Homo sapiens: one gene and its partners. The protein of the gene in region 5 purifies or fractionates together with the protein of the main gene of each other region. This does not show direct contact. Each region holds a gene or a part of one and is shown on either strand. Other genes may lie near its edges.

The links.
Region 1: the proteins of C19orf18 (region 5) and BMPR1A purify together in Homo sapiens (affinity purification with mass spectrometry; one large-scale study listed by BioGRID and IntAct). This does not show direct contact.
Region 2: the proteins of C19orf18 (region 5) and MFAP3 purify together in Homo sapiens (affinity purification with mass spectrometry; one large-scale study listed by BioGRID and IntAct). This does not show direct contact.
Region 3: the proteins of C19orf18 (region 5) and STX6 purify together in Homo sapiens (affinity purification with mass spectrometry; one large-scale study listed by BioGRID and IntAct). This does not show direct contact.
Region 4: the proteins of C19orf18 (region 5) and FGFR2 purify together in Homo sapiens (affinity purification with mass spectrometry; one large-scale study listed by BioGRID and IntAct). This does not show direct contact.
Region 6: the proteins of C19orf18 (region 5) and NDFIP1 purify together in Homo sapiens (affinity purification with mass spectrometry; one large-scale study listed by BioGRID and IntAct). This does not show direct contact.

The regions. Positions count from the first base shown.
Region 1 is NC_000010.11:86,758,981-86,764,150, reverse strand, and holds part of BMPR1A (bone morphogenetic protein receptor type-1A isoform 3 precursor), read right to left. Parts: intron 1-5,170. UniProt on the Homo sapiens protein: On ligand binding, forms a receptor complex consisting of two type II and two type I transmembrane serine/threonine kinases.
Region 2 is NC_000005.10:154,047,548-154,052,717, reverse strand, and holds part of MFAP3 (microfibril-associated glycoprotein 3 isoform 1 precursor), read right to left. Parts: intron 3,162-5,170; 5' UTR 2,996-3,161; coding exon 2,701-2,995; intron 1-2,700. UniProt on the Homo sapiens protein: Component of the elastin-associated microfibrils.
Region 3 is NC_000001.11:180,998,179-181,003,348, forward strand, and holds part of STX6 (syntaxin-6), read right to left. Parts: intron 4,523-5,170; coding exon 4,428-4,522; intron 1-4,427. UniProt on the Homo sapiens protein: SNARE promoting movement of transport vesicles to target membranes. Targets endosomes to the trans-Golgi network, and may therefore function in retrograde trafficking.
Region 4 is NC_000010.11:121,477,040-121,481,516, forward strand, and holds the end of FGFR2 (fibroblast growth factor receptor 2 isoform 1 precursor), read right to left. Parts: intron 3,075-4,477; coding exon of another isoform or gene 3,012-3,074; exon of another isoform or gene 2,983-3,011; coding exon 2,818-2,982; 3' UTR 2,632-2,817; coding exon of another isoform or gene 2,542-2,631; 3' UTR 1,293-2,541; downstream 1-1,292. UniProt on the Homo sapiens protein: Tyrosine-protein kinase that acts as a cell-surface receptor for fibroblast growth factors and plays an essential role in the regulation of cell proliferation, differentiation, migration and apoptosis, and in the regulation of embryonic development.
Region 5 is NC_000019.10:57,970,911-57,976,561, forward strand, and holds the start of C19orf18 (uncharacterized protein C19orf18 precursor), read right to left. Parts: upstream 3,625-5,651; 5' UTR 3,523-3,624; coding exon 3,402-3,522; intron 3,294-3,401; coding exon 3,189-3,293; intron 1,595-3,188; coding exon 1,553-1,594; intron 1-1,552.
Region 6 is NC_000005.10:142,128,334-142,133,503, reverse strand, and holds part of NDFIP1 (NEDD4 family-interacting protein 1), read right to left. Parts: intron 1,697-5,170; coding exon 1,609-1,696; intron 1,293-1,608; coding exon 1,162-1,292; intron 1-1,161. UniProt on the Homo sapiens protein: Activates HECT domain-containing E3 ubiquitin-protein ligases, including NEDD4 and ITCH, and consequently modulates the stability of their targets. As a result, controls many cellular processes.

The DNA of each region.
Region 1 (5,170 bases), on a different chromosome or scaffold from region 5:
AGTAAGAAAACTACCTACAAATCTTAATATACATAAAACAGTATCAAAACTATCCAAGTCAGCCAGATGTGGTGGCTCACGCCTGTAATCCCAGCACTTTGGGAGGCTGAGGCGGGAGGATCACGAGGTCAGGAGATTGAGACCATCCTGGCTAACACGGTGAAACCCTGTCTCTACTAAAAAATAGAAAAAATTAGCTAGGCGTGGTGGCGGGCTCCTGTGGTCCCAGCTACTCAGGAGGCTGAGGCAGGAGAATGGCGTGAACCCGGGAGGCAGAGCTTGCAGTGAGCCAACATGCGCCACTGCACTCCAGCCTGGGCGACAGAGCGAGACTCCGTCTCAAAAAAAAAAAAAAAAAAACAACTATCCAAGTCTCCTACAGATTTCTCACCTTCAAAATTGAGAGTCTATCTTCTCAACATTTTGATACTTTACCCAAAGGCTAAAGAAAAAAAAATTAATGCTCAAAAAAGGAGGTAAGAAAGCAGGATACGGGAAGGGCACCGCAGGCATAAGCCATACTCCCTTTGGTACTTGCAAGGACTGCCAAGGCTGGCGTGATTCTTCAGCCAAAAGTCAGAAGTCCAGTGATGTCATTAGGACCAAAAGCATTATATGACCTTCAATTTCGGCAGCTAACTGTGCTGCAAGTCAAGATATTTTCTTTCTTTTTCTTTTTTTAAGCAGAAAAATTATCTTAAAGTTCACCATGTTCCTTCTATTTTTTAAGATAAAGAAACGAAGATTCGGATTGGGTTAGTGTGGCATCCGTGATTGAATAGGTACTCAGTAGTAAAACCAGTATCAGACATTATTTATAAAAAATTAGAAGCTGAAACTTAATCATTCCGCTGCTTCTTTATGGCTTTTTATACTTCCCAAATTACCCACAATAGATGTATTGCCTTTAAAATTTTTAAAAAGCTGCAAAAACTGCTCACTTTACCGAATACTTCTGGCCGGGCGCAGTGGCTCATGCCTGTAATCCCAGCACTTTGGGAGGCCGAGGTGGGCGGATCACGAGGTCAGGAGTTCGAGATCAGCCTGACCAACACAGCGAAACCCCGTCTCTACTAAAAATACAAAAATTAGCCAGGCGTGGTGGCTCACGCTTGTGACCCCAACTACTTGGGAGGCTGAGGCATGAGAATCGCTTAACCCGGGAGGTAGAGGTTGCAGTGAGCCAAGATCACGCCACTGCACTCCAGCCTGGGCGACAGAGTGAGACTCCGTCTCAAATAAATAAATAAATACTACTGAATACTTCCAAAAACAGTCTCCTTGTCCTTTCTTGCCTAAGGTCTCACTCTGCGGGCTACCTTTCTCAGGAAAGCCTTCCAAAGTACCCGCATCCTGAACAGCCCAGCTTCCCTTATCAGTCTTGTAACATTCCCTGGACTTCCTTTTTGTAGATCTTAACATAACTACAACTAGATAATTATTTAATGTCTATCTTCTCTACCCAGGCCTTAAGTTGAAATTTCTCAAGACTGGCCAGGCGCAGTGGCTCACACCTGTAATCCCAGAACTTTGGGAGGCCAAGGCGGAAGGATCACCTGAGGTCAGGAGTTGAGACCAGCCTGGCCCACGAGGCAAAACCCTGTCTCTACTAAAAATACAAAAAGGAGCCAGGCGTATTGGCGGGCGCCTGTTAAACCCAGCTACTCGGGAAGCTGAGCCAGGATAATCACTTGAACCCAGGAGGCGGAGGTTGCAGTGAGCCCAGATCGCACCACTGCACTCCAGCCTGGGAAACATAGCAAGACTCCGTCTCAAAAAGAAAGAAAAAAAATTCTCAATGCTGTTTTAGGCTCTTTGCTAGACCATACAAGGAGTTCTCGATACGAGGTCTATAACCTATAACCTGTAATTCTATAACCTATAACCTATGTCTTCCTCTGCCAGATATATGCACCTGCCTGAAATGAGACCACAAAAGTGAAGAACAGAAAAGACAACCTCAATTAATTATATCATTTGAGCACTTAGGTCCAGCCATGTCTATTTCTAGACCTTTCAATATCATGGGGGTTAGTGGGGAGAAGCTTTTCCCTCCTTTAAGCTAACTTGAGTTAGGGCTGTCACTTGTAAGCAAGAGTCACTTGAGAGAGCCACCCAATTCCCACTGTTGGAATATAAAATCTATACAGCAATGACTCCCAAATGCCTACCTCCAGCACAAACCTCTGTCAAACCCCAGACCCATATAGACAACTGCCAAGTGGAAATCCCTACTTGGCTGTTTCAGATATCTCAAACTCCATGTGATCCAATACTATTTTCTTCTACAAACCAGCTCTCCCACCTCATTTTTCATATCTGTCACCCACATCTACCCTGCTTTCCAAGCTAGAAATCCAGGAGTTGTTCTTGCCAATCCCATTCCTTCTCTCATCCACGCTAGTTATCGCCTCCTATCCATTCCAGGCCCTAATTATCTGCCACCATCTTAACCCATTTATGCCTGAGGCTGCAATTTTTTGAATTTTTGCAATCAGACCTTGGTGATGACCTTGAGCAGGATATAAATAACTCCCACGTGCTTAGCGTTCCAATAGTGGAACACTAGGCATAAATGGGTTTAATCCGGGCTAGGCCAGAAAGACCTTCCTACAAGTTTGAACATCTTCAGTCTTCCTTTCTTCAAAATGATTTTCCAACATGTAACTAATCTCCCTAACTGCAAATGTGATTATAATATTTTATCCCTATCTCTAGCATACTCCTGTCCTCCTTCATAAGTCAACAGCCAATTATATACAGCTGGATCAAGAGCCAAGCTCCACTGTTCCAGACTTTAACAGTATAACAAATCTGTGCCATAAGAAAGGAAGGCTCATCAGAAATATAAAACTATAAAAGAGTAACAAAGTCTACAACATCAGAGTAAATAAAAGATACTCAAAGATAATTTACTCATCTATTCAATGTCTACTCATTAGTTATATATTAAACTGCCCATACGAACTGGCTTAGGGACCACAGGGGCCACCCTGAGATGGAGTCTACTGATCATCTGATCTCCCTATGCCCCTAACTAGTGTTCTTTTCAAAAAACACTACTGGGGATTTCCAGGCACATCCAAGAGCTTTGATTAGGGAGAGAAACACTATTCATCAATTCTAAGATGCATCCATTTTTCATATTTTAGCATCTCCGGAATTGGGGTGCACCTTACAATCAATGGCTTCTTACAACTAGAAGCATATTTTAAGTGGTCTGTAACACTACTGTGTATCTTACAATGGACATAACTCAATGCAAGTCAACATTTAATCTTGTGTTAAAAAGTTGGTCCAACTTGGTCAATATGGACCTTGTGATGTTAAAAAGACATCCTAAAGCCTAAAAACTAGTAAAAGGTGGGAAAGTAGAAAAGGAAAAGAAATGGTTCCTACTTCAAAATTTAGTGTGATAGGAAACCCATTTTCCTTTCTCTCCATGGTTCGCTGCTCCTAAGATCCAATAGTCAGATCAGGACAGTTCAACAGCTACTGTTAGGCTAGACAGGAGCCTTTCCCCATTTATTCCTTTTAATATGCAAGAAAAGTCCGTTACAGACCCACCCTGCAAACTAGTAGTGAAACTAATATTTGTATAAAAACTGCTATAAAGGCCAGCCACAGTGCCTCACCTGTGTAACCCCAGCACAGGGAGGCTGAGGCGAGCGGATCAACTGAGGTCAGGAGTTTAAGACCAGCCTGGCCAACATGGCAAAACCCCACCTCTACTAAAAATACAAAAATTAGCCAGGCGTGGTCCCAGCTACCTGGGAGGCTGAGGCAGGAGAATCCCTTGAACCCAGGAGGCAGAGGTTGCAATGAGCTGAGCTCACGCCATTGCACTCCAGCCCAGGCGACAGTGCGAGACTCTGTATCAAAAAAAAAAAAAAAAAAAAAAAGAAAGAAAGAAAGAAAGAAAGAAAAAACAATAAGGTATTAAAAAAAAAAAAAAAAAAAAACAGGTAAATCTGAGGCAAATACCACAGAAAATATTTCATTTAATGGAAGACCTAGGAAACTTCTGAGTGGCGAAGTGGTAAGAACTGGGCTTACAGATTAATTTAGGCAGAAATACATAAGATTAGATAAAGGAGAAAAGTGAAGGCAAGAAAATCATAACATTAGTCCAGGTGGGATGAGAACTTGATTTAGAGTTAGGGGGTGGGGGTGGAGTCGCGGGGTGGTGGGGGGAGAACTACGTGAAAGCCAAATAACACTAGATTTGAAAATAAATTCCTGAAAAAAATGTGAAACATTAAAATTCATATGAGAATCAGAAAATCGACACAAACCAACAGCTATTAAAGAAATTGAAGTGTTACTCAAAGTCCTCTCCAGAAAAAAGATCTAGGCCTAAATGGTCACATAGGGGAGGTCTTCCAAACTTTCAAGGAACAGATAATCCCAGTCTAAAATGATCCTGAAAAAGAGAAAAAGAAGGAAAGCTGCCCAACTCGTTTTATGATTTGACTACTACCTTCACACCAATATGAATTCAGAATTGCCCCACAGTTAGCAAGAATAGAGAGCAGAAGAGTTACAATATCATAAAGCAGAATCAACAGATGTTGGCTACAGACAAGATATGATGAAATGGGAAAAGGTTTGGGTTTGGTATGACATCAACAAAAATAAAGAACACCAAAGAGGCAAGTTTGCTAAGGAAAAGCAGCTCAGAACAATCAGGTACAGATATGTAGAAAGCAACTGAATAAAAAAGAAAAAACAAAACAAACAAACAAAAAAACGTGATTCAGAAGACACATAAACAAAGAATTGAGAATTATTCCAACAGAAAGGTCTGAACAATCATTCTAAGGGACTAGAGACATAGAGAAAAGTGATCTGAAAAGTGAAACTTGGAGAACGCATATTAAAGAGGAAAGAAGAAACAGAAGGCAGAAAAGTGGCGGAGAGGAACAAAGTCAGTATAATGTCACAAAAGGCCCCTCTTCATCTAGTTAATAGTTAACTCTTGCTCATCCTTCACAATCTGCCTGGGTTCCAACAAAGCAATTTTAAGGTATCTTTCCCAGATTCTCCCACCACCACAAGCACCAGATCAGGTCTCCATTTGAAGTTCTTATAATATTCTGCACCTTAATTAAAATCACAATTATATTTAACTAGAGACTTTATTTTTCAATAAGTATTTCCCCACTAGACT
Region 2 (5,170 bases), on a different chromosome or scaffold from region 5:
AAATCAAGATCTTCCTTCATGACACTAATAATTAACATAGCTTCCTTTTCACTGCTAGACTTCAAAAGCCTTTCTGTGAAACAGGTATGTCTATAAAATGCTAAATGACTAATCATAAAAAAAGCTTATAGTTTATACATATGTGTCCGTCTACATCACATTGCAACCAATACATTTTCATATACTATGAGGGTATGTCTCAGAAATATAAAACAATGGTTTAAAATAACAGTATTTTAAATTTTTATGAGTAATTTTTATTTTCTTCTAACTGTGTTTGCTCACTTTCCATAGTGAAATTATATAACAAGAAGAAATTATTTTAAAAAATCCTAGCAATTTAATGCATTTGTTGAAGTAACTGCCTAATCTGGTATGCCTTGCACATATCAATTTTTTGTTGTTGTTGTTAAGAAACTTTTGTTGATTTTCTGGCAAGAGTAACTGAAGCACAGGCCAAAAAATACATCTCACAAGTCATGGTAAATGAAAAGCTTGGCAAAAAGAATAAAGTTGCCCTTAAGATGCCTATGCTTCCATTTTCAACCTAAAACATACTGCCTCTCTTCCACACGTGAAGGTATTTTCATTCAGGGAACACGTATATAGAAGTATACAAGTGTAAGAAAAGCAAAGCATATTGACTACGCATCTTGATTCACATCCTTCAATAACTTGGCTCTGACTGCATAATTCCTACTTTTGTGATACATTCCCAAAGCACTCTGTGCTTTAACTATGAAAGCCATTCAGAGATGGGAAGGATGGGCTAACCTGCAGTGTGGGGATGCATTCCAATGACTAGAGGAGGTGTCCCAGAGGAGGTTAGCGGACTGCTTGTTAAGCATTACTTGAGTGCCCAATCTTCAAAATCTCTTTCATCCCCAAGATTCTATGGTTCTGGATTATTTTAGTGGCACATAAATTAGTAAGCACTCTGGATTTTGTCCATTTTCATCATCATCCAAACTTATCTCAATCCTATAGGTATTAATATATTTAAAAGCCATCACTTCACTAATACAAAAAGAGGAAAACATGTAGTTATGAATATAGCCATTTTCCATAAGCTTCTGTTCTATGAACTTAGAGCTATGAAAACGACACCACTTGAATCCAAGGTATGATGAACTACAAAGACTCCATTCATCAACCATTGCACTACAACCACAATCTAAACTCTCTAGCTCACTTGCTGATAATAGCTCAAGATTTATGAACCTTATACTAGACTGACATGCTCTTTAAACTCCTCTCACTTGAGATTCATAAAATTTAATACAATTTTCCAGAGCTGCTGCTGAAAGCATCAATGATAGATGTTAGTGGTTTTCAAAGTAAAGGCAAAATAGAAAAATAAAACTGCCATTCCACTTGGCTGGTCTTGTTTTAACCTAAGGCTTTGTTTATGCAGTCAGTCTACAGTGATGACACTGAATGAATAATTCAGATCTCAGAGGTGTTTGGTCAGGATATCGTAGAGCCCAGAGAAGATAGGAGTCTGGTTCAGTGGGTTCAAATATGGAACCCCAAATCATGTTCAAAGTACACATTCCAGGTATCACTCTAATTCAATAGTTATGTATTTTAAACATGCTGATTAAAAATACCCTAACAATTCAAACTCTTCAATCCCTTGGTGACTAGTCACTCAGTCTATAGATTAAAATAGTGCATATGTCTGAAGGAAGTATCACCTGTCTCCTTTTGTGTTTTCCAGCCTAATATGAATAACCAATATCCTTTTCTATTTCAGAAGGCTACACTATCTTCCTAACAAAAAAATTTCTGAAAGTGTAGCTTGTGAGGATCTTAGAATTTAAGCTTCATCCCTTTGGCTTTTCATGGTGATTTCTTTTTGAGGTCCATTATAACTCAAGTACTCATCAAAAAGATCTTTATAACAGAACACTGGTTAGGAGTAGTCTGGATTAAGATATATTCACAGATCCATGAATAGGAAAATTAAATAAAAATCTGTCAAAAAGTAGACCTTGAACACACTATGTTTATGTGATTTTTAAGACATAAACAAAAAATGCAAAAAAAAATTTCTCATTTCCAGTAAATTAAGGTATAGAATACAAAAAAAAAAAAAAAAAAAAAAGAGCTGGAAGGGCTTACAAGTTCCATAGTGCCCTTCTAATTCTCTGAGACCTGACGTCAAAGTTTTATGCACAGATTGATACTCATTTTCAAAAATGTCCTGGATTTCCTCTAAAGTTTATAGTAACTAATTTCAGAGCAAAACTTTTTTATTTATAACAAATTTTCTTAAGTCTAGCCAAAAACCTTCTGGATGTATTCACACAGGGCCACCACACTGTACTACTGACATAGTAGTCTAGGTGAAGGGTGCTCCCAGAGTTGTGTTGTATACCACCTGTACAGCTGTATGCAGCAGCCCTGATTTACTCTACCTTCAATGAAGAAGAAAACCAACTGATCAGGAGAGAAAATAGCTCATTGTCATCATGTGAACATCTTTTAAATTTAGAATGATTCTTTTTTTTCTTCTTCTGGTTAAACAATTATAATTACTTTGCATTTTCTGATAGGTACAACACTCCAGACCTTTCAAATGTTTTAAACTATTCACCTTGGCACCTTATCTTTGAGACTTTTTGTTTAACGTGTTAAAAAATAAGAAGACAGAACAGGAAATGAGTAACCTTGATTAATTATACCCTGACCAATTACCTCTGCTTCTGCCATCCAGTTGCTGTCCTTTTGAATTGTGCCAATGGACATCTTCATAGTGACTGGCTGTGAGAAGACACTCAATTGAAACGCTAGTTCCCTCTTTGGCTATGATGACATCATCATCCGAGTGGGAACTTGCTGAGAGTTCAAAGCTTGAGGGAAAGGATGCATTGTAAGAACTACGATTTGCTTCCAGTGAAACCATTTGGTCGAAGTCCACATCTTCCAAAACAAAAGCAGCTGGCACAATAATACTTGCCACTAAAGTGAATAAGCAACAATGTAGCTTCATGGGAAAATGGGACAAAATCTTGTTTAGATTTGGAGAACTCAAAAACTTCTACACTACAACAAAAGCACAGCGGGTAATTTATTGCTTGGTAGAGAAATTTTCCAAACAAGTGGTAGATCCAGTTATATTTTCTAGTCTTCAAGATTAAAAGATGTGAGTAGAGAACCTAAAAGAAAGCCAGATACAAAGTTTAACCAACTGAGATTCATAATGGGGTGAAAGTGCGTATGTTCCAGAATGAATAGATGTTAATTAGAATAATTGGTGCTGACATTGGGGAGTAATTAGATGGAACAGTACCTAAAAATCTCACACAGAGACAGCAGAAAAAGCAATGAATTGGTAAATAGCAGACCTAGATTTTGGTCCTAGCTTTGCCACTAACTAGCTGTACGACCTTGGCAAGCAGCATTCTCTCTGGGTTTCTGTTTTCTCCTCTGTCAAATAAGGGACTGGATGAGATAATCTCTAAGGACTCTTCCAATTCTGAAATGCCATGATTCTATTTCATTCTGACAAATTTTATGCAACAGGGAGCCAATGAAGGCTAAAATATTTATCTTAATGATCTTTTATTTCAACCTGCACCATTACCATCTGTTGTTATAATGTAAATCAACTGGCATATCATAATCATAACCATGGAGCTCAAAATTTGAGTAATTCAAGTATGAAGATATGTTACATATAAATAATGCAGGGACACCTGAGGTGGGTTGTTTTAACACTGGAAAGAAAGCTGCACTTACTGCATACACATAAATAGAGTTATTGACTTCTAAAGCTATGGAACCTCCTTCATGGGCAAGAACATTAGACAACAGAATTTTCTTTTAATAGTTTCTCCAATACGAAGAGACAAAGTACAGTGTATTTAATAGTTTGTAAGCATACCAAATTTCTAGCTCAAACTCTGTAAACTAGCTAAGGGAGGAACTGACATCTTAAGTGTCTAGTTAGTAGAAATGCAAATATAAAACTACAGGGACAGATTGTTAGACACATTTAAAAGAAGAGCAAAATATCTTGAATAAAAGGCAAAATAACATCCTAGTCCAAAAGTCTATGTATTTATGATCACCTTCCTGGTAATTTGACTCCCCCTTTAAGCCACCAACTCTCAAAGAAAAAATTCAACTTTTATTTCTATAAAATATGGGATGAAATGCCTAGCTTTATGTCTTATAAAGCACCAAGATAATTAGTTTTGGAAATGACATTTACTCTCCTTTATATTTATATGAAGGCTGCTTGATCACAGAACATAAAAAACAATGAATCACTGTATTTTGCCATTAAATATCTCAAAGTCTAAATTACAATACGGTGCAAATGTCATTTAATTTTCATTAATTAACCCTTGAAAGGATGGTTGAATGGTGACAAATACTTTTCTAAATCTTTACAATTTAAGGATGGGGTATACAGAGTAAAATAAAAAACCTTCAGACTTTGGCAATACATGACACACTAAACGTGTTTATTTCCATTTCCTCCTAAAACCGCACAAAAAGGACACTAAAGGAAACAAAGACTTAGGCAGAGAGGGGATTTTGGAAGTAATATAATCTAATTGATTCAGTGCACAGTGATTTGCTTCTTACGACATGCTACAAGTTAGTAGGAGAATCTAGTTTGGAATACAGTCTCTTTTTTAAGAGGGGGTGATGGGTAGAAACAATGGAAATAACATTTATTGAATGACTGCCATCAGCCAAGCACTGTGCTAGGGGCTTGACATGTAAGTTTCCAAGCTCTTTTTCACTGCAAGATATACAGCAATTGGAGGACATAATTTTGTACTTTATTCTAGATTAGTGGTTCTCAACGGTGACAGGCTATGAGTGTGCTGAAAAAATGCTCCAGGCTTTCTCCAGAACTTTGATTAGGAGTTCCTATAGCTTCATCCAGGGCAGCACTTCCCAAACTTCATTCATTCCTTCTCCTGTCTTTTTTGTTGTTGTTGTTTTTACTATATCCATGAACCAAATTATCGTCATTTCTGCTTTTCTTTTAAATCAACTCATTTTATTTTTACTTTCACATTTATTTAAAAAGGAAACTCTACATCAGTTCTGTGGACAAATGTAACCGTACACATAAACATAATGAAAACAAAGAAGTGTTATTAGCTTCCAGAGATACTACTGCCTGCTGAAAGGCTTTGAGCTGGAG
Region 3 (5,170 bases), on a different chromosome or scaffold from region 5:
TGCATTATCATAATTAAATGTGTATTCTAAAGTTGCAGTTTTTAAAGTTTTATGCTTAATAAAAACCATGTGGGGTTATGTGTGTGCCTGCATGGGTGTTAGCCCTGATGAGGCAGATTCCTCCAATAGCCCTGTGGGTAGGCATCCTGTATGTGACCACCACCACCGCGGGTAAGGATCTAAGGATCTATGGCTTTCACTTCTTTTTTTTTTCTTTTTTCTTTTGAGGAGTCTCACTCTGTCTCACAGGCTGGAGTGCAGTGGCACAATCTCAGTTCACTGCAACCTCTGTCTCCGGTTCAAACAATTCTCCCACCTCTGTCTCCCAAGTAGCTGGGACTATAGGCAGCTGCCACCACACCCAGCTAATTTTTGTATTTTTAGTAGAGACAGAGTTTCACCATGTTGGCCAGGGTGGTCTCAAACTCCTGCCCTCAAGTGATCTGCCCGCCTCAGCCTCCCAAAGTGCTGGGATTATAGGCATGAGCCACCACACCCCGCCAGCTTTCACTTCTAAGATGGCACTTTATCCATGTAGGTCAAAAGTTAGCAGATACCACACAACACCTTCATATTGGAATTCGGGATCTTAAACTATGTTACTAAATAGTTTTAAACATTTTATAACAATCTATCATGCCAAAAACATAATTACTCATCTTCTTTCTAACACATGACGTTTAGAACCAGCAGTCAAGCAACAAGTCCCAATAAAATATGGTTCATCTGCCAAAGGAACAACAAATGTCCTGGTTATTTATGCTTCTGTTCCCATTTCACACTGTCTTCCAAGCTGAATGAATGAGACATCATAAACCCCAGTGCTTCCCACTCATAATTCTTACATTTCAAGGTCATCTGTGCTCACACTGGATACTTCACCCTTTTTGATTAACCAAAGCCATTTCCATCTTGACTTACAATTGACTGTAAACAATTCTTACATTGGAGCAGGTTCGGTTTTTTCATGGAGAGGGTAATAGTTCTAACTTTTAAAGTCAGAGAATGTTAGTGAGGATTATTTCATAGATAAAACTGAGATCCAGGGAGGTTGAATGACTTACCATGGTTAAGATTTATTAAGGTCACAGCTTAGCCTAGAACTCAGGTTCCCTTACCCCTTATATTCACCATTATTCTGCCATATACTGCAAAACCTCTTGATCCTAAAGTAAAACCAAAGTCACTTCTAGGATATATTTCTAAAACACAAAAATTTCACATGTGGAATCTTTGATGTATAGGTGACTCCACAAGAGTAAAAATGATTACCTCAAAAATATGAAAGCTATTTACACAAAAATGTGAGTATTTTGGTTCTTCACTAAAAACTGCCAGCAAAACTGGATTTGTACAGACTTAAAAGATGCTTGGAAAAACATACACAAAACTCTAAACAAGGAAAGCTTACTAAAGGCATAACCAATGGACATTAATCAAGAAGAAACAGGCGATTTACTTCTTCAGGTTGAAGCAAATAAAGAAAAAAAAAACCACAAAATGCATAGAGTATCACTGACTCCCCTGCCTACAAAAGAGAAAGCATAAGTAGAATACACTGTTTGAAAGATAAAGTCAATCAAAATTTTGGAGCAATATTAAATGAAAGCCCACTAGTAATAGTAACAGAAGAACTAACATAAATTTGTACAAATTCCTAATTTGAACTTCATTTCATCTCATTTTCCAAATCTGCTAACCCTCTGCTCCCTCTCTATCGAGCTCTTCCACCCAGAACCCAGAAATCTCTACATACAAACACTGTTTAGCTAAATGTGGTAATGTGGAATTATACAAGGTATATTTTATTTTTAATCGAGTTAGCACCATTGCTATTTCCTCCTCTTCTATAGGACTTTCAACTAGAATTTATTACAATCAGATCAGCAAAAGCTCAGTTAGGTACTGTTAGCCTACCACTGGTAAATACTAACAGCTTCCCCCAAAGGGGTCATAAATTTAAACAAGAATGATTTAAAACCCTAAAATATTCAGGTGGATCACATAGTTGAGTATGGTTTAGATCTCAACTCTAAAAGGACAGTAAGATTTTGAAGTACTGACTTGATTTGGAATACCTCTCATTACTCTGTTCTCACATTGCTATAAAGAACTGCCCGAGACTGGGTAATTTATAAGAGAAAGAGGTTTAATTGACTCACAGTTCAGCATGGCTGGGGAAGCCTCAGGAAACTTACAATCATGGCAGAAGGAGAAGCAAGGCAACTTCTTCACAAGGCAGCAGGGAAGAGTGACAGAGCAAAGTGGGAAGAGCCCCTTATAAAACCATCAGCTATCATGAGACTCACTCACTATCATGAGAACAGCATGTGGGAAACTGCCCCCATGATTCAATTACCTCCACCTGGTCTCTCCTTTGACACATGGGGATTATGGGGATTACAATTCAAGATGAGATTTTGGGTGGGGAAACAGCTAAATCATATCAACCTCTTTCTAAGAATGTACTTTAAAAAGCTTTTCAGATATTAGAAAATGAACTTTGGATTCTTCTTTCCATTATACCAATGAACTTAATTTTTAATATACGAACCTCTAAATTTCAATTTGCAAACTTCCTAAGTCTACCTTGCAGAAATAAATATAATGATTAAGGTTAAGGACATATGCTTCACTGCAAGGCCCCACTTAAATATTAACGTCTATAGGAGTATCCTTCAAAAAACCTACTACTACAAAAAAAAAAAAAAAAAAGCTTATACAAAATAATTGGGGATTTACTTATCTTACAAAAAATATGTCACCTAACAACAAGGCTTCCTCATCAGAACAGTATTTTGAACTGGCTAGAAATTAAGAATGTCCAATCCAAACACTCACTGTGGATGGGGCATCTGAGGTCCAGAAAGGTTTCTCCCTCATTAAAATGTGGGTTTATCTATAAACAATTTACGTATATGTATATAGAAAGGCAACTAATGAATAAAACAAGTAACAAGAATATATAAAGTTCAGTGATAATCTACCATTTGAAATAATTTCAAAAGGAAATCACATGATATAAAGACTTTGGCAAACACAAACTAAGGTTCCTGCCTAAGATGACTCTTAAAAAGCCGTATGTTAGCACTGGTATGATCCCAAGTCTTTTTATTCAAGGAAGCTGCTTTCTAGTACATATGTTAAAGACAGCTGGTTCTCTTACATCTAGTTATGCTAATCAAATGGCTTAGCCATATAGTTTCAAAATATGAAACATTTTAATGACACAAGATTGTACTTAATATTTTTTCTCAGATTCTTTAATAATGGGTATTATTCTAAATAACTTAGAACTAAAGATTTGTTCACTTGGATCAATTTTTTACACTCTGATAGATGCTTGTTTGCTCTGGATAACTCTGGAACGGCTGTCAAGTAGTTACATATGGAAATGTCAGTATCTTGGGTTGCAAGAGTTCCAGAAGCAATTCAGATGGCGGAAGAGGCCGCTATCCAAACCCACTAAGAGTCACTCTTCAACAATGCGAAGTGATTACCAATCAATCAAAAAACCAAATGGTTTCTACAATAGCAATTGTTTTGTTCGTCAAGAAATAGAGTACACTAAGAAATAAAAAGTGAGAAAGATAACTAGCTTGAAGAAACTAGAGGTATGGACAAGGGTCTAATCATTCAGGATGACACCATTTGAATGTACCCTGCCCAAAGCCAGCAGATTACTGTCTCATTTTTGCTCTCGGAAATAAGCCTGACAGGCTGGGCATGGTGGCTCACGCCAGTAATCCCAGTACTTTGAGAGGCTGAGGCAGGCAAACTACTTGAGTTCAGGAGTTCAAGACCAGCCTGAGCAACATGGTGAACCCTGTCTCTACAAAAAATTAGCCTGGTGTGGTGGTGCACGCCTGTAGTCCCAGCTATTTGGGAGGCAGAGGTTGTAGTCAGCCAAGATCATGCCACTACATTTCAGCCTGGTCAACACAGTGAGACCTTGTGTCAAAAAAAGAAAGATTAAAAACAGATTTCTTTTTCTTCAATCACGGAAATTTTTTTTTTTTTTTAAGGTACAGTGACGTGATCATAGCTCTCAGCCTCAACCTGATCCTCCCACCTCAGCCTCCCATCTTGGTCTTCCATGTAGTTGAGACAACAGGTGTGCACCACCATGCCCAGCTAATTTTTATATTTTTTTTTTGTAGAGACAGGGTTTCATCATGTTGCCCGGACTGGTTTCAAACCCCTGGGCTCAAGTGATCCACCCACCTCCACCTCCCAAAGTGCTGAGATTACAGGCATGAGCCACCATGCGCAGCCAATCAGAGAAATTATATATGGGGAAGCTCACATTTAATTCATATTTAAAAAGTGGTTTCAGAGGTGACCTATTAGTTTACAATTAAGGGAAAGAGCTCTAAGAAGTCTGGCTATTTCTTATACAGATAACACAATAAGATCATATTCCTTACCCTGACAACTTGCCGAGTACTTGTAATGAAGGCTTTTCTTATACTCAATTCAGTTGCATCAAGGTTAAATTTTCTAGGATTTGCTTCAACTATGCGTAGGTCAAAAAGTCAAGGTAAAACAATTTCATCATCAAAGCCTGACAACATCCTGTTAACTCACTGAATCTCTCACATGCAAACAAATAAAATCTGGCTCAAACTTTCTGAAAACACAGTCAGCTGGACACCAATCATTCTCAGACTTCCTCTGCCCACAGCCACAGGAGGGAGGATCCCTTTGCTCCAAGACAGAGATGATCTGTCTGGTTAGGAAGCATAGCCCCTGCTGATGAGCTTCACTGCAAACACTTAGGGCTATCTGACCACAGGTGAGCTGGGCTCTTCCTGTTTGCCAACACTTGTGTCTATCCTTTTTTGACTCCTGATCACCTTTACTAAGACAGCTTTTGCAAGCCTTTTTCTCCTGCCATTCCAAACCACTTCCCATTATGCCAAGATGCTAACCCTACTTCTTAATCTAGAGAGATCGGGCCTTCTTCAGAGAAGCTGCCCTCATTCCCTTACCCTCTAGCCTGGTCCGACGCACCATGTCAGACACTTGCATAGCTCTCTATACTTCTCGTTCATAGTCTGCAGGTATCTATTTGTGTTATTACTTGATTACCATCTGTCCCCCATCCCTATCCACTCAAAGTTCTGTGAGGGCTGGTATAGTGTTTATTAATCTAATCTCTGTAACCAAC
Region 4 (4,477 bases), on a different chromosome or scaffold from region 5:
AGCTCCAGGATTCTTATCGAATCCTACCTGTGTATGCTCATTTGGGACAGGTCTCAAAAAAAAAAAGGTACTGTATTACCTATCATTCTCATGGACCACACTGCCTTCTTGCCCTTCATGACAAGTGTCTCTTTCAAAATAATTCTAAAATCAAAATGGCCAAAAGACCATTTAGGATTCTTGCCCACCCATCTCCATGAAATGGGCCAGAAATACAGCAGTTCTTACTGCCATTATAATCTACACTGTCAAGGCTATAAACTGCCCTTCAGTGTCTAAAGTACAGCATATGCACCAGAGAGCTGCACGGAGGAACCAGCGTAGACCCCAGCAAGTCCATCCTCACCCTTGCCAAGGACATCTCACGGTAGAAATGTCCCCAGGGGTACAGAACATCACCCTGTACACTTGTGTCTAACAGGTGACAATTTTCTTAGGTGGCTTTCATGCACCTTATTTTTAAAATCACATTCCCAAGAGCCCTGTTATCCTGTAAGAAACAGAAGGACAGAGGTTTGGGAAATACAGAACCAGGACCCTAGGCCACTCCCCTGATGGCTGGTGACACCTTGCTCCACCATGAATGGCCTCAAACAGAAAGAAGACCCCAAAGACAGCACTCTTTACCAATGGCCCTGTAAGGTTCTAAGAGCCTGGCTGAAGTGCAGGAGAAGTTGGCCTATGTTCAATTCCCTTTCCTGCTGCTGATGAGGCTGGCAAGTAGATACAACAGACCCTTAAGAGTCACAGATTCACATTTGTTAACTGACAGGCAAAACTCCATTTCCCTCTTCAGATCGTTGGTGGTATGAAAATAAATAATTATTCGAACATTTGTCCAAGTTTTCTTTTGGAAAATTTGAAGCAAATCCTTCTCTCCATACATCATGAAGAAAACAGCCTAAAAGGTTTTTAAGTCCCCAGGATTCAGATGTTCTGAACGTCTTCCCTACTCAATACCTGTCATCCTTAGGTCACCTTCCAGTTTGCAAAGCTCTCTACCATGTGGCTCTTTGTTTGCTCCTCTGGGGAACTGGTAGGGCTCAGAAAGGAACGATGATTCCATTGAGGTGCCAGTAAGCAACCGAGCCAGGGCTCCAACCAACTGATTCAGATTTTCCACTGGATCAACCTCAACCTGTCACAGGTACTGCTGGTCTCAGTCAACCCCTCTGGCAAGTCACCCCCGTGTGTAGCACATAAGACCCTTGGCAGCCCTGCCCTTCCTGCATTCACAACAGCACTCAGTCAGCACCTCCAAGCACAGGAAACCATTTGGTAAGACACGAGTATTAAAAAAATAAGTTGCGTGACATTTATTTTGTCTTGTTAACATTAATATCTGTAGAAACATTTTTATTGTCAGTATAAAAATTAACAGGTTTTATTAAATACTTTCTCCAATTTTGTAACACATAAGATCAGTGTAATCTGCATTCATCTTGCACGGCTATTGCAAAGTGAGTGGGTGTTTCCAAAGCAAAACACAATACTTTAGTACAGAAGGAACAACGGCGATATTTTGTCTGATGTAGGTATGAGGCTGGATCTTTTGGTGAGGTCCTGCCAGAATTAGATGAAAGCAATCCCTTAAAAAGATGGACGTATCCCCAAAACTATCAGCAGAACAACTCTGTGTTTCAATTTTCTATGATGGGACTTGAAGATCCTAACAGGCGTCTCCAACGCCAAAGAGTCTGGAAGCCATTATCAAAATTCACTGAAGAGAATACAGGCTAATCTGATTAATGTGCAACTCAGAAGCAGAAGGCCAGCTGCCAGAGAGAAGCACATTCTGCTATCATTTCAACTAAGGTCTGTCCTCAAGGAATGGATTAAGGCATCTTTTAAGAGGACGCTGGTACCATTTATCTTGGGAAGTCCAGTTAGACGTTGCGTTGACGTAATGACAGGGTTGCACACCAAAATGAAACACCTTCCTATGAATGAGTTCTTTTAATATGGGGCATTTAGGAGGTCTAAGAACAATCGTCTGACAGCAGCATTTAAACACAAATAAATCAAAACTTCATTTTCCCCAAATTAGTCATATATTGTAAATATTCTCTTTTCAAAGGATCTGATAACTAGTTAAGTCCAAGCAATAGATTAACTAGTCTGCTGTGCTGCCTGCATAGAAATGCCACTTAAATTACAAAAAAAACTATAAATGATTAATTGTTTTGTATATTACCAATTTATTAATAAATTAACGTTATACCATTTTCCCTGAAAGCAAAAGTATTTTTCCACCTCTGCTCGGTGAAAATTAAGAAATTATGTGTAAGAACAGCATTTAGCAAATAGCTATTAAAAAAAGAGAGACCAATTTTCTAGGTGCATTGGGACATCCATTTAAAATCAATACAAAAAATAACTCCTTGTAAATATATAATATATATTTATACATAATTTGAATATATTTACATACATCCAGCACCTATATACTGCATTTGTGCTCTGTAAGTGTGTGCTGACATAAATCTTCTCCAATTATTACAAAATTAACAAGGAAGGCAGAACGCACGTCCACCTTGAGTCCTACTGGTCCACAGCCAGTACGCACGGCAGGTGAGAGGGGTTACATGGTGGCTTGTGGCAGTCCACTGCTCCAGAAACCTTCTTCTCCTCCTGGGGAAGATTACAAGTTTTCAACTGTATAAATCTTTACACATATGCTGATTACTTTTCCAATTATTTACTCCTCTGATCCATATATACAAGTGGAGACAACAAGCTCTGGGAGGCATGGTCTCCCTGCTCAGTGTAGCTAGGTTCCCAGTGCTGTCCTGTTTGGGGACAGGCAGACACAGTCATTCATGTTTTAACACTGCCGTTTATGTGTGGATACTGAGGAAGGCATGGTTCGTAAGGCATGGGGTCTGGAGAAAAAACAGAATCATCTCCTGAAGAACAAGAACTTCTTGTGTCAGGGTAACTAGGTGAATACTGTTCGAGAGGTTGGCTGAGGTCCAAGTATTCCTGAAAGAAGGGAAGAGAGACGTTTTATTTCATCTTGGGTCAGGATAACAAGGTGAATACGGTTCGAGAGGCTGACTGAGGTCCAAGTATTCCTGAAAGAAGGGAAGAGAAGAGTTTTATTTCAAACACAAACTCTTGAGATGTGGGTATTGGACGTGGGACAGGACAGGAGACCCCTAGAAGGTGAACAGAGACCCAGCCCACCTGACTTCCACGAAGACCTCCCTGAGACCACGTCTGATGTACCCCAGGCTGTCCTTAGCTTTTCTCTTGGAATCCATCATAAATCAACTATTGACAGGTAGAGAACAATAAAACCTAGTTGAGCTATAGGTGCTGGGCAGGCAACTCGGCTTCACACGGACCTAAATAACCCGCTGAGTCTACACCACCTCCTCACTAGAGCCCTTGCTTCAAATGCGAGCCCCAGCAAAATGAAAACCGGTAACATGTTGTGGGTCCCCAGACCCCCTTTAAGTAGTTGAGACTATGAATATTTATTTTCTGAATTACATTTTACTATTGTAGTTTCGGGGATAATTGAAGGGGAATACTTCTTCATTCAGTGGGTAATTTAACAGATGTAACTGATTACTCTCAGAAGCTCTCCGAGTTGAAAATGTAAACAGGTTCAAAAAAGGCTTAGACATACTCATGTATGTTAAATCCATAATGCACTGTTAAAGGAAACTTCAGGAAAATATCGGTTAAGTTTCAAAGTTTTGAAGGTTCGAGATTCAGAAAGTGTCCTTTGCTCCCCAAGGCATCCAGTGCTGGTGCTGCAAAAAGCCCTCTGGATCACCCCAGGGTGACACTTCCTCCGACTTGGGTGCCCACAGACGACTTTGTATGGCCTGAGGGCTAAAGATGGTCTTTAACATTGGTAAGCGGTTGAAAAAAAAAATCAAAAGAAGAAGAATATCTTATAGGATTAAAATGAATAAAATTTATATACAATTATATAAAATTCCAATTTCAGGATCCATAAAATTTTACTAGAAGACAGACTAGAACACATCTATTTACATATTGTCTGTGGCTACTTTGAGGCTACAGTGGCGAAGTTGCAACAGAGACCACAGGGCCGGCAAAGCTGAAAATATTTACTCCCTGGCCCTTTACAGAAAGCAGTTGCCGACCCCTGTTCTGAAGCTATGAAAAGCTTTCTAAATTGGGAACTTGTGGGTCTCTCTGCCTCCACTGGGCTGGCACAGTGGGGCAGTTCTGCTCACACATCCAGAAGCCAACAACTATTCTATGACATGTGGTTTTGCTGAGAGGGGGCAAAAAGTGCAGACCACAGCACAAACAGCCTCAGTGTTATCAGAAAAGAGCCCATGGAATGTTGGCAACTAGACATTTTTAAAGACACACACACACACACACACACACACACACACAAAACCCTCTAATTCATCACCAGGGTTGGCAAGAGAAAGAGTCCCCATCCCAGCATCCCAGAAGGGGAATGTATCAGTTCCAACAACATCAGCAT
Region 5 (5,651 bases):
CAACTGGGACCTGAAGCTCAGGGGTGGCAGAGGTCTCAGTGACCTTCTAGCACCAGCACACAAAACGAGCTAGTGTCAAAAGAAGGACCAGTGTGCAGGCCTTTGATACCCCAGCCAGGACTCAAGCTCTGTGCTTTGGTGATGGTGGTGTCAATGGGCAGGTGAAACAGTCATAGCTGAGCTTTAGGAAGATTGATAATGTGTTTGGCGTGGATGGATGTATTCATCACGTTTTTTATTTTCTGTATTTCCTGATACTTTGACATCTTGGGGCCTTAACTGACCCTTGAAGAGACTGCCCTCCCAGGTCCAGCCAATTCCTGAAGATAGTAAACCCTGGCCTGCAAGTGCACCTTTCATGTGCAAGCCGACACACCCAAAGCCTACACCCCAACAATCTCTATGGAGCCCTCATGCTCCAGGCCACCATCCCCTGCCCCCAACCACCCCAGGGCCAGGTCCCAGACAACCAGGGACATACCCCATGCCCCACAGCCACCAAATCACTCAAGCTGATCCCAAGCCCGCCTTCCCTACCTGCCTTCCTGTAAAAACCAGAATAAAGTTGTTTTTTTTAAAAAAGACAGCCTCGCTCTGTTGCCCAGGCTAGAGTGCAGCGACCCAATCTCAGCTCACTGCAACCTCCACCTCCCAGGTTCATGCGATTCTCCCGCCTCAGCCTCCCAAATAGCTGGGATTACAGGTGCCCACCACCACTCCTGGCTAATTTTTGTATTTTTAGTAGAGATGGGGTTTCACCATGTTAGCCAAGCTGGTCTCGAACTCGTGACCTCAAGTGATTCATCCACCTCGGCCTTCCTAAGTGCTGGGATTACAGGGATGAGCCACCGCACCCGGCCCAGAATAAAGGCTTTTGCTCACACTTTCCTGGCTCCCTTTGCCTTCTGATAGACCCTGGTGCTTCCTTGTGTGGACTCCTGCTTCTAGGGACCCGTGAGTATCAGGCTTCTTCCTTCATGACAGTCATTTCTGTGTCTGCATGTCTCACTCAGCATATGTGATTAAATAAAATGCTGGCTACATGTGAAAGCAGTGGAGATGGGTAGGTGGTGGGGGAGCTGACTCAGAAGCCGCCCTGTTGCAGGCACTTAGCAAATGTGCAGAGGAGAAGGAAGGATGCTCTGGGGCGGGAGCAGCAGCAGGACACAAGGTGCCTTCTGCTTTGGAGGACTCTGAAGCGAGAGGTGTTGAGGAGGTTCCAGGACAAGCCACAGTGGGGAGAGTTGCTAGAAAGGCTGCTGACAGGGCCGCTGTGTGTGCCCATGCATTTTGTGTGTTCCACAAAGAGATCTCAGACACAGCCTGTGCTCTACTCACTACAACATCAGCCCGTGGAGTTGAGCCACCTTCTCACCTGCCCCAAGCGGTGTCACTGCGCATCCCCCTCCAGAGGGGGCACCTTGTCTAACACACATGAAGGCACCACGTGTGCAGGCTCCTTGGTGACCAGCCAGCACCCTCTGGAGCCACACATCACGACAGCTTCAGGAATGTTGCGGGTCCACCCGCCCTCCCAGATCCCTTGGCTTACCTTTATTCCTCAGGAATTTCATGGGGTTCGTAGGGGATGCAGCTAAAAGGCCATCAAAGGGGATCAAAAAGAAGAGACTTTAAGATGGTTTAAGATGAACTTGGGAAAACAAGGAAATAACTTAGCATTAGAGAAGGACGCCGAACACACAGCTTCCAAATATCTAAGATGGGATGTGTTAATACATTCCTCCCAATGCCTGGCAGCAATGTGTGGGTTAATTTGCAGAAGCCTGGTGAGCCTGCTGTTCTTTTTGCACCTGGTGCTTCCTGTCATGAAGAATGACCTTTAGGAACAGGATACTTTTGGTTTCTGGTCTCCTTTTGCAGTCATACAAGTTGGGAAATCTCTGCCCAAATTAAGGACCTGGAGAGACTTAGAGTTGAAGGGGCTACGACCTCATTAGAAGGTCAGCAAGGGTTGGGCACAGTGGCTCATGCCTGTAATCCCAGCGAGGAAGGCAGATCACGAGGTCAGGAGTTCGAGACCAGCCTGACCAACATGGTGAAACCCCGTCTCTACTGAAAATACAAAAATTAGCTGGGCATGGTGGCACGCGCCTGTAGTCCCAGCTACTCAGGAGGCTGAGGCAGGAGAATTGCTTGAACCCGGCGGTGGAGGTTGTGGTGAGCCGAGATTGCGCCACTGCACTCCAGCTGGGTGACAGAGTGAGACTCCGTCTCAAAAAAAAAAAAAAAAAAAAAAAAAAAAAAAAAAAAAAAAGGATCAGAGAGCCAGGCAGAGAGGCCAGGGAACCAACAATAGTGTCCTTTCCTCGGACACAAATTACATGCAAATGTATCACACAGACAGCATTTCCCTTGCATGGAATGGAGATTATTTACAAGCATCATATATCTCCACAAAGGGTTGCTGAGCTTCAAAGATTGTCGGGGTTGGTTTTGCTGTTATAAGATAAACAAACATCCTCTAGTACTCAAATTAGAAGGGAACCATAGAAAATGCTTATAAAGAATTCTCGGCTGGGCATGGTGGCTCATGCCTGTAATCCCAGCACTTTGAGAGGCCGAGGCGGGCGGATCATGAGGTCAGGAGATCAAGACCATCCTGGCTAACACAGTGAAACCCTGTCTCTACTAAAAATACAAAAAATTAGCTTGGCGTGGTGGCGGGTGCCTGTAGTCCCAGCTACTTGGGAGGCTGAGGCAGGAGAATGGTGTGAACCCAGGAGGTGGAGCTTGCAGTGAGCCGAGATCGCGCCACTGCACTCCAGCCTGGGCGACAGAGCAAGACTCTGTCTCAAAAAAAAAAAAAAGAAAAAAAAGAATTCTGTACACTCACAAACCTTCTGTGTCTAGACTTGCATGCTCTACTGCCAAATGTGCACCAAATTCAAGTCAGACAGGCATACCTGTGTAATCTGGATGGGATCAAGGTTTTTGTGTGCGCTTATTAAAGTGAAATGAAAAAGAGAAGAAAGTGGCAATCCCTAAAGAGAAAGCAGTTAACAGAGAGTGAAGAGCATAAGATCTAATTTCCAAGCAAATGTTTATCTAATTATACTCTATTTTATGGACCTTTCTACCAGCAAGCACACAGTACACATTCACATGGCAGATAAGAGGACTCCAGGCTACGATTCTCACTCCACTGAATGAGGAATTCAATGACTCACCCGTGGATCTCGAGGCAGCCCCTTGAATCCCAGGCAACTGGGTTTTATGAAAGAACACTTTGGGCTCTTTGGTGATGTTTCTGGGTGGTTGTGACCGTTTACTGCCTTGAAAAGAAAACTTTTTGCGGTGAAATGTAATTACCTTCTTTTTATCTCCCCTGAAACAGCTTTTCAATTCTCCCTGAGTCACATAAAACCAGTGGTTGAAGCTACCTGGTAAGCCTGTTATGTTTCCAGTGGGATGGAGTCCATCTGCATACGGCAAGCATAAATGAAGTTGGCATTCCATTAAAAACAAAAACAAAATGAGGAAACCACTCTGAACCTTGTCCATCACTCTCAAATTATCAGTATTTTATCCCGTAGATGAAAGGAAATACTTAGCTACAGTCCAGCATCTGTCCTCTATTTATCTGAGGAATCAAGAAGTTCTACTCCCTTCAGAATGTTTGGGCAGTGACTTGGAGCCACCAGTGTGAGGTCAGTCCTTGCTGTGATAATGGAGTTCCTTCATGGAACCATGCTGACCAATGGGGAGACTACAGTGTAAGAGGGCAGTGCTTGGAGGTGCAGGCATGATGAGACCAGGTCCCTGCCTGCAGTGTGCAGATTAGTGAGGAGGCAGAAAGAAATCAATTACAGTCAGCCCTCCGCATGCATAGTTCCCCATCCGTGATTTCCAACAACCTCACTTGGAAAATGTTCAGGAAAAAAGGAATGGGCACGGTGGCTCACGCCTATGATCCCAACACTTTAGGAGGTCAAGGTGGGCAGATCGCTTGAGGCCAGGAGTTCAAGACCAGCCTGGCCAACACAGTGAAAGCCCATCTCTACTAAAAATACAAAAATTTGCTGGGCGTGGTGGTGCACACCTGTAGTTCAAGCTACTTGGGAGGCTGAGGCATGAGAATCACTTGAACCCAGGAGGTGGAGGTTGCAGTGAGCTGAGATCATGCCACTGCACTCCAGCCTGGGCGACAGAGCAAGACTCTGTCTCAAAAAAATAAAACAACAAACACAAAAACAAAAACTAGCCAGGCATGGTGGCGTGTACCTGTAGTCCCAGATACTCGGGAGGCTGAGGCAGGAAGATCACTTGAGCCCAGAAGGCAGAGGTAGCAGTGAGCCAAAATCGTACCACTGCACAAAGAAAGAAAGAAAAGAAAGTGGAAGGAAAGCAGTCACCCTTAGAAGGGAGGCAATGTGCACAGGGGAGACCCACAGCAGGAAGGTAAAGGGGGACTCCTGATGACTGAAAGTGGGCCCTAGGCTTCAGAGATGGGAGGAATAGAAGACGGGCTCAAAAAAGGCAATGAACTATGTCATGTATGAGGGAGACAGAGGGGACCTGGGAGTGCTGGATGTTAGGGACCACTGAAATCAATACTGTCCAGGCTGTGCATGATAGGTGAGAGGAAGGGAATACTTCCAGGAAGAAGCAGAAGTCTGGGACTTTCTTTTGACTCGTGATGTGACCTGACCAACAGGAGGCCCTTTTTTTTTTTTTTTTTTTTTTTTGAGATGGAGTCTTGCCCTGTCACCCACACTGGAGTGCAGTGGCACAATCTTGGCTCACTGCAACCTCCACCTCCTGGGTTCAAACGATTCTCCTGCCTCAGCCTCTGGAACCGCTGGGATTACAGGCATCTGCCACCACACCCAGCTAATTTTTGTATTTTTAGTAGAGATGGGCTTTCACCATGTTGGCGGCCAGGCCAGTCTCGAACTCCTGATCTCATGATTCACCCACCTTGGCCTCCCAAAGTGCTGGGGTGACAGGAGTGAGCCACTGTGCCCTGCCAGGAGGCCCTTTAAGACATTAAAAAAACTCTTATCTGTTTAAACAGAGATGGGATCTTGCTACGTTGCAAGGCTGGCCTTGAACTCCTCAGCTCAAGCAATCCTCCTGTCCCTCCCAAAATGCTGGCATGAGCCTCGGTGCCCGGCCTAGAAATTTTTTCAAGATAATAATCTTAGTAATAAGGTTATAAGTTACCAGGATGCTTGTGGTATATTGCATATGACTTATGAAATCCTTTGGAATCTCTAAATCAGATAATTTGGATTCACTCTGGCTATTAGAATACAATATCCACATCCTACTGGTAGTATGATTCTGGATATATTATGCTGCTTTCTCCAAGATGAGATAATACTGCTAACTTCATTCTCTCCAAGGGCCTTTGCACAAATCATGTAAAAAAAAAATCCATCAATAACTAACTTGCCCCTGCCACATTTATCAGGTGACCACTAATGTGTCAGGCCTTGAAAGGACTACAATCAAATGTTACACACCTAAGTGAGCCCAAGCTAGAAGAGTCAGAAGGTGAAAATAACAGCCTCCCAATGACATCACTAGGCCATCATTTCTCAACCACTGGGAAGCCATGGGCCCTTTAAAAATTAGATGAGCTTTATGAGCCCAAGTTCCACTCAATACCCTTGAAGCCTATCCAGGAA
Region 6 (5,170 bases), on a different chromosome or scaffold from region 5:
ATATGACTTTGGGAAAATTACTTTTTCTCTCTGGACCTAAATTTTCACATCTGTAAAATGGAGATAATATAATCTCTACCTTTCAAGGTTACTATGAAGATTGGAAACAATATACAAAATATATAAAAGCATCAAGCACAGTACCAAGCATGTGGTTTGCTTCCAATATACGGCAGTTACATTATGATGGTCTTGCCCTTAGACACTAGGGTTTTTAGTTTCTCCCTGGTACCTGTAAGAACTGAATGCACATCATCGCCATTTAGGATCATCCTAGATTGGGCTCATAAACTATTTCTACCAAGCAATGATTTTAGGAGCTTCGCTCCTCACAGTAGGTGTGGTCTGCAAACTGTCTACTATCTTAAAGCCAAGAGGGGAACATCTGGGCCTATGCCATCACACTGCCCAGACTAGGCTTCTGTACTTGCTCATCACTCACTCCAGTTACTTGCTAGAATAGAGCCTAGAGGCCTGATGGTCCCCGCATTTCTGGGGACTTATCCTGCTTCCATTCTCCCACAATGCCCTACCTTCATCAGCCTCAATCTGGATGAATATTTACAAAATGACAAATGCAGCACTCACATATCTGACATCAAGAACCAAGAGTGCCCAATAATCTCCACTGGTTTATATGGCATCCCAATCTCCACCTCCATGAATCAACATCAGGCTAGATGGAATCTGAACTCACTATGTCCCCACAAATGACATGATCTGGACTGCTGGAAGAACGGAGTTCATCTAAATCAATGTGAAGATCCCTCTTATGAGTTTAATTCTACAAATTTGCATATATTTATTCTCTTCCTAGACCTCCCTAGCAGCTATCCACCCAACAGCAAAATATTAAGTGTGCAGAATCAAGGAAACATTAGTGTGCTTCTGCTTCAAGATACTTCAGCCATCCCAGGAGACTTGAAAAAGTAGTGGTAATAGGAGAGATGAAGGAAAAATGAGCAGGTCTGACTAGTAATTTACCTCATCATTTTTAAGAAGAGATGAGTTTATTATCCCAAAAGCAAATGTACCTGATTTTTAAAATTAGCTCTACTTTCACTAATCAATACAATCATAAGTAACGAATCAAAATTGGATAATGAAAATAACTTAATTCCCACAGAGCAGCCATCAAGTAACATGGCAAATTATACTCACTCTCCCAGGAACCAAAGGGATAGTAGCTTCAGCCTTGGTCCTCTCCGCTTCATCATAACTGGGCAGTGTTGTAGCTACATTGTAAGATGGGGGCTTTGGAAACCCAGACTCATCCTTGTAGTCAAAATATGCTGCAGAATTTTAACAGTCACAATTTTTTGATGATTAGCTGAATTGAAATAAAAGGAGTTCCACTAACTCTAGCAGACAAAACCCAGCCATTCCCTTAAGAGTACATACATAACAATTGAACCAAAAGACATTCTTAGATGAATGTAAGAGACTGGGGGTGATTTTTAAATGTATCCACTTCTCAATTATTTAAAATCCAGACTTGCTTTGTAACCTTTCTTCCAACTGCTTCTGAAGCTTTTTTTTTTTTAAACTGTAATGTCAAAGCACAGAGTGTTTTTAAGGATTCCGTGATCACCTTGCCCTGTTACCTACCTGCGCTCTCTGCAGAAATGCTGCTGTAAGGTGGAGGAGCATCACCTGCAGCCTGTTCAGGTTCTCCAGACTCTTCTTCATTCTGCAACTAAATAAAAATTTCATATTTTAATGTAAGCATAAAGCCAATTAGAAAGATAAGAACCCAAAAACTGAAATAAATAGCCTTTCTCGAAAGCTATTTGGCAACGTATTTTGAAAGCCTTGAAATGCACAAATCCTTTAAGAAAAGTATTCTACTCCCAGGAAGTTATTCTATGGAAATATTCAAAGAGGCAAAATGGGTACATATAAGTGTTGTGTCAGCAAAAATTAGAAACAACCTAAATTCCAATCATAGGAGACAAATAAATTATAGTACATCACACAAAGGACTACTAAACGGCCATTAAAAATTAAATTTTGCCATCCTGGCCAACATGGCAAAACCCAATCTCTACTAAAAATACAAAAATTAGCCAGGCATGGTGGCACACTCCTATAGTCCCAGCTGCTCAGGAGGCTGAGGCACAAGAATCGTTTTAACCCGGGAGGCGGAGGTTGCAGTGAGCTGAGATGGTGCCACTGCACTCCAGCCTGGGCAACAGAGTGAAACTCTGTGTCAAAAAAAATATACATTAAATTTCAGCCAGGCATGGTGGCTCACACCTGTAATCCTAGCACTCTGGGAGGCCTAGGTGGGTGGGATCGCTTGAGATTAGGAGAGTTTAGGAGTTCAAGACTAGCCTGGGCAACATGGCAAAACAAACCCTGTCTCTACAAAAAATACAAAAATTACCCGGGAGTGGTGGCATGCACCTGTGGTTCTAGCTACTCAGGAGGCTGAGGCAGCAGGATGGCTTGAACCCAGGAGGTCGTGGCTGCAGCGAGCTAAGATTGTGCCACTGCCCTCCAGCCTGGGGCATGAGAGAGACCATGTCTTTAAAAAAAAAAAAATTAAATTTCATTACTCAAATAGATATTTACAGTGTACTATTATTACATGAAAAAAGCTAAACTTGCCAAACAATAGGCATCATATAATCCTTTTTAAAAAGGCAGACATATAATGGAAAGGAGGCCTAGAATGAGACATTTACAGTTCAACACTGTTATTTCTAGGTAATAGGAGTACAGGGGAATTTTTCCTTTTTGTTGTGTATCTGCATGTTCAAATATTTTGTAGTGAATATTTATCACTTGCATACTTTTTTTTTTTTGGAGAGACAGGATCTCACTCTTGTTGTCCAGGCAGGAGTGCAGTGGCACAATTATGGCACACTGTGACCCTGGCTAACTTTTTTTAAAATTTATGTTTTGTAGAGATGGGGTCTTCCTGTGTTGCCCAGACTGGTTTAAAACTCCTGGCCTCAAGTGATGTATACTTTTTTAAAGTTAGAAAAATAATCTGTTAAGACAAAAGACAAATCACAGACAAACCATGTTACCATTATATTCCACATGCACACCAAATTAAATCTTAAATAATTGAGACACTTATGAAAACATAAAATTCTCCCTAATTCTACATATATCTGTCAATAGATATCCCTTTTCCCTATCTCAGCAACTTTTCTGCCAGTCAAATCTTCAATTTTTTAAAATAACTCGCACTGAAAGTGTCTGCTGTTGCTAGTCTGTATAGTCTACACAAGTCATCTTCATAGAATAAAGACATTTCATTTGGTTTTTCCAGTCCAGTGTGACAATGAACTATATTAATTTAAAACATGAGTTGGCTGGGACTAGGAGCCAATCTGAAAATTAATAACAGAATATTTAGTGATATAACTGACGTAGGGGTCTGGTCCTGGCTTCGGTATCATCAGGATATACAGAGCCAACTGACATACTTGTAAAATACATACCACCTCTAAACCATACCGCTACAAAGAACTCTATCTTGAATTGAGACAGAAAAACAGAGAGACCGAGGTGTACTAATGTGAAGTAGAGCTCCATAATCCATTAAATTTTCTTTCTTTCTTTTTTTTTTTTTTTTTTTGAGATGTAGTTTCGCTTTTGTTGCCCAGGCTGGAGAGCAATGGTGGGATCTCGGCTCACTGAAACCTCCACCTCCCAGGTTCAAGCAATTCTGTTGCCTCAGACTCCAAGTAGCTGGGACTACAGGCGTATGCCACCAGACCTGGCTAATTTTTGTATTTTTAGTAGACGTGGGCCAGGCTCGTCTCAAACTCCCGACCTCAGGTGATATGCCTGCCTTAGCCTCCCAAAGTGCTGGAATTACAGGCGTGAGCCATTGTGCCCGGCCACAATCCATTAAATTTTAACTGATCATCTCAATCTCCACTCACTATGCTGTTCAAAACCAGATGTCAATAAATTTTTCTGACTAATACTACAAAAGCTTCAATTTCAAATGAATTCTTGTGTCAAATTCTCATCAGCATCTACCATCTGGGTACATTTTTTCGAATCCTAGTAATCTAATGTTAAACTTAAGGTACTCCCAAAATAGCTGTATTATAACCTAAGATAATTTTTCCTTTTAAACAAAGACATGTGGCCAAAATAGGTGCAGTAAAGCCAAATGCTCCTGGGACACCGAACTAGGAATTACTTAAATAGAGTTCTTGGGACCATGGTTCACCTAAAATACTGGTTTTAACATTATTTGAAGCTCTTGGCAAGGTATTCTTAGCCTCCTCACACCTAACCACTCTTGTGCTGTGGGAAGGTCACCAAAAGAAGCAGAAGAGTCAGCAGCAAGAACAAAGGCAAATACAGACTTTTCGAATATGTTCCCTTAATATACTGTAGCCAGTAATGAACTTCATTTAAACCTAGCTTGGTTTATACTTAACCCGTTTTATATTTCCTGAGCTTGGTGTCAAAGTAATCACGTTACCCCTGCATAATTTAGGTCTCAGAAAGGAAGCATGACAATTCTAAGAAATACAGAAATCCAAAGAACAAAGAGGTTAAGAGGTCTTCTATGACAATATTTATAAGATAGGCTGCCTGTCTCCTGGAAACTTGGAAATGTTAAATTTGATCATCCCCCACCATAGTAAAAGATGACAGTGCAAATAAATTCCAGCCTTCTTAGAACCACCAATTTTCACTTTGGTAAGGAAAAAAACACTTCCAGGTGAAGAGTTTGCTCCACTAAAATTCACTACTTTAGAATAGTGTACTTTTTTCAATTGAAAAATAAAAACAATTTAAAACACCATTATGACTATGGTATAATCCCAAGACCTCACTGTACAGGCTTCTCACTCTGGCTTATTTCTATAATGCTGGTGATAAGATTAGGCTCCATCAAGAAAGCTGTTTAAAACAAAACACTGCAATGTAGGGGGATCGCGGGGAGAGGCAATCACCTTCAAAAAGAGTAAGCACTTAGTGCCTGCCATCTGCATGCATAATAACTTGCTGAACAATGGAATCCTTAAATATACATCTTTTTACACTTCAGGGGCAACAAGTCAGGCATTCACTAACAAGTGGAGGAACCATGTGCGCTAGAACTAGAGTGTGCTATAAAATTGATTACTTGGTTCCAAAATTTATTTTTAAGATTCCCCTTTTCCACCCCTGGGAACCCTTCTGTGCAGCC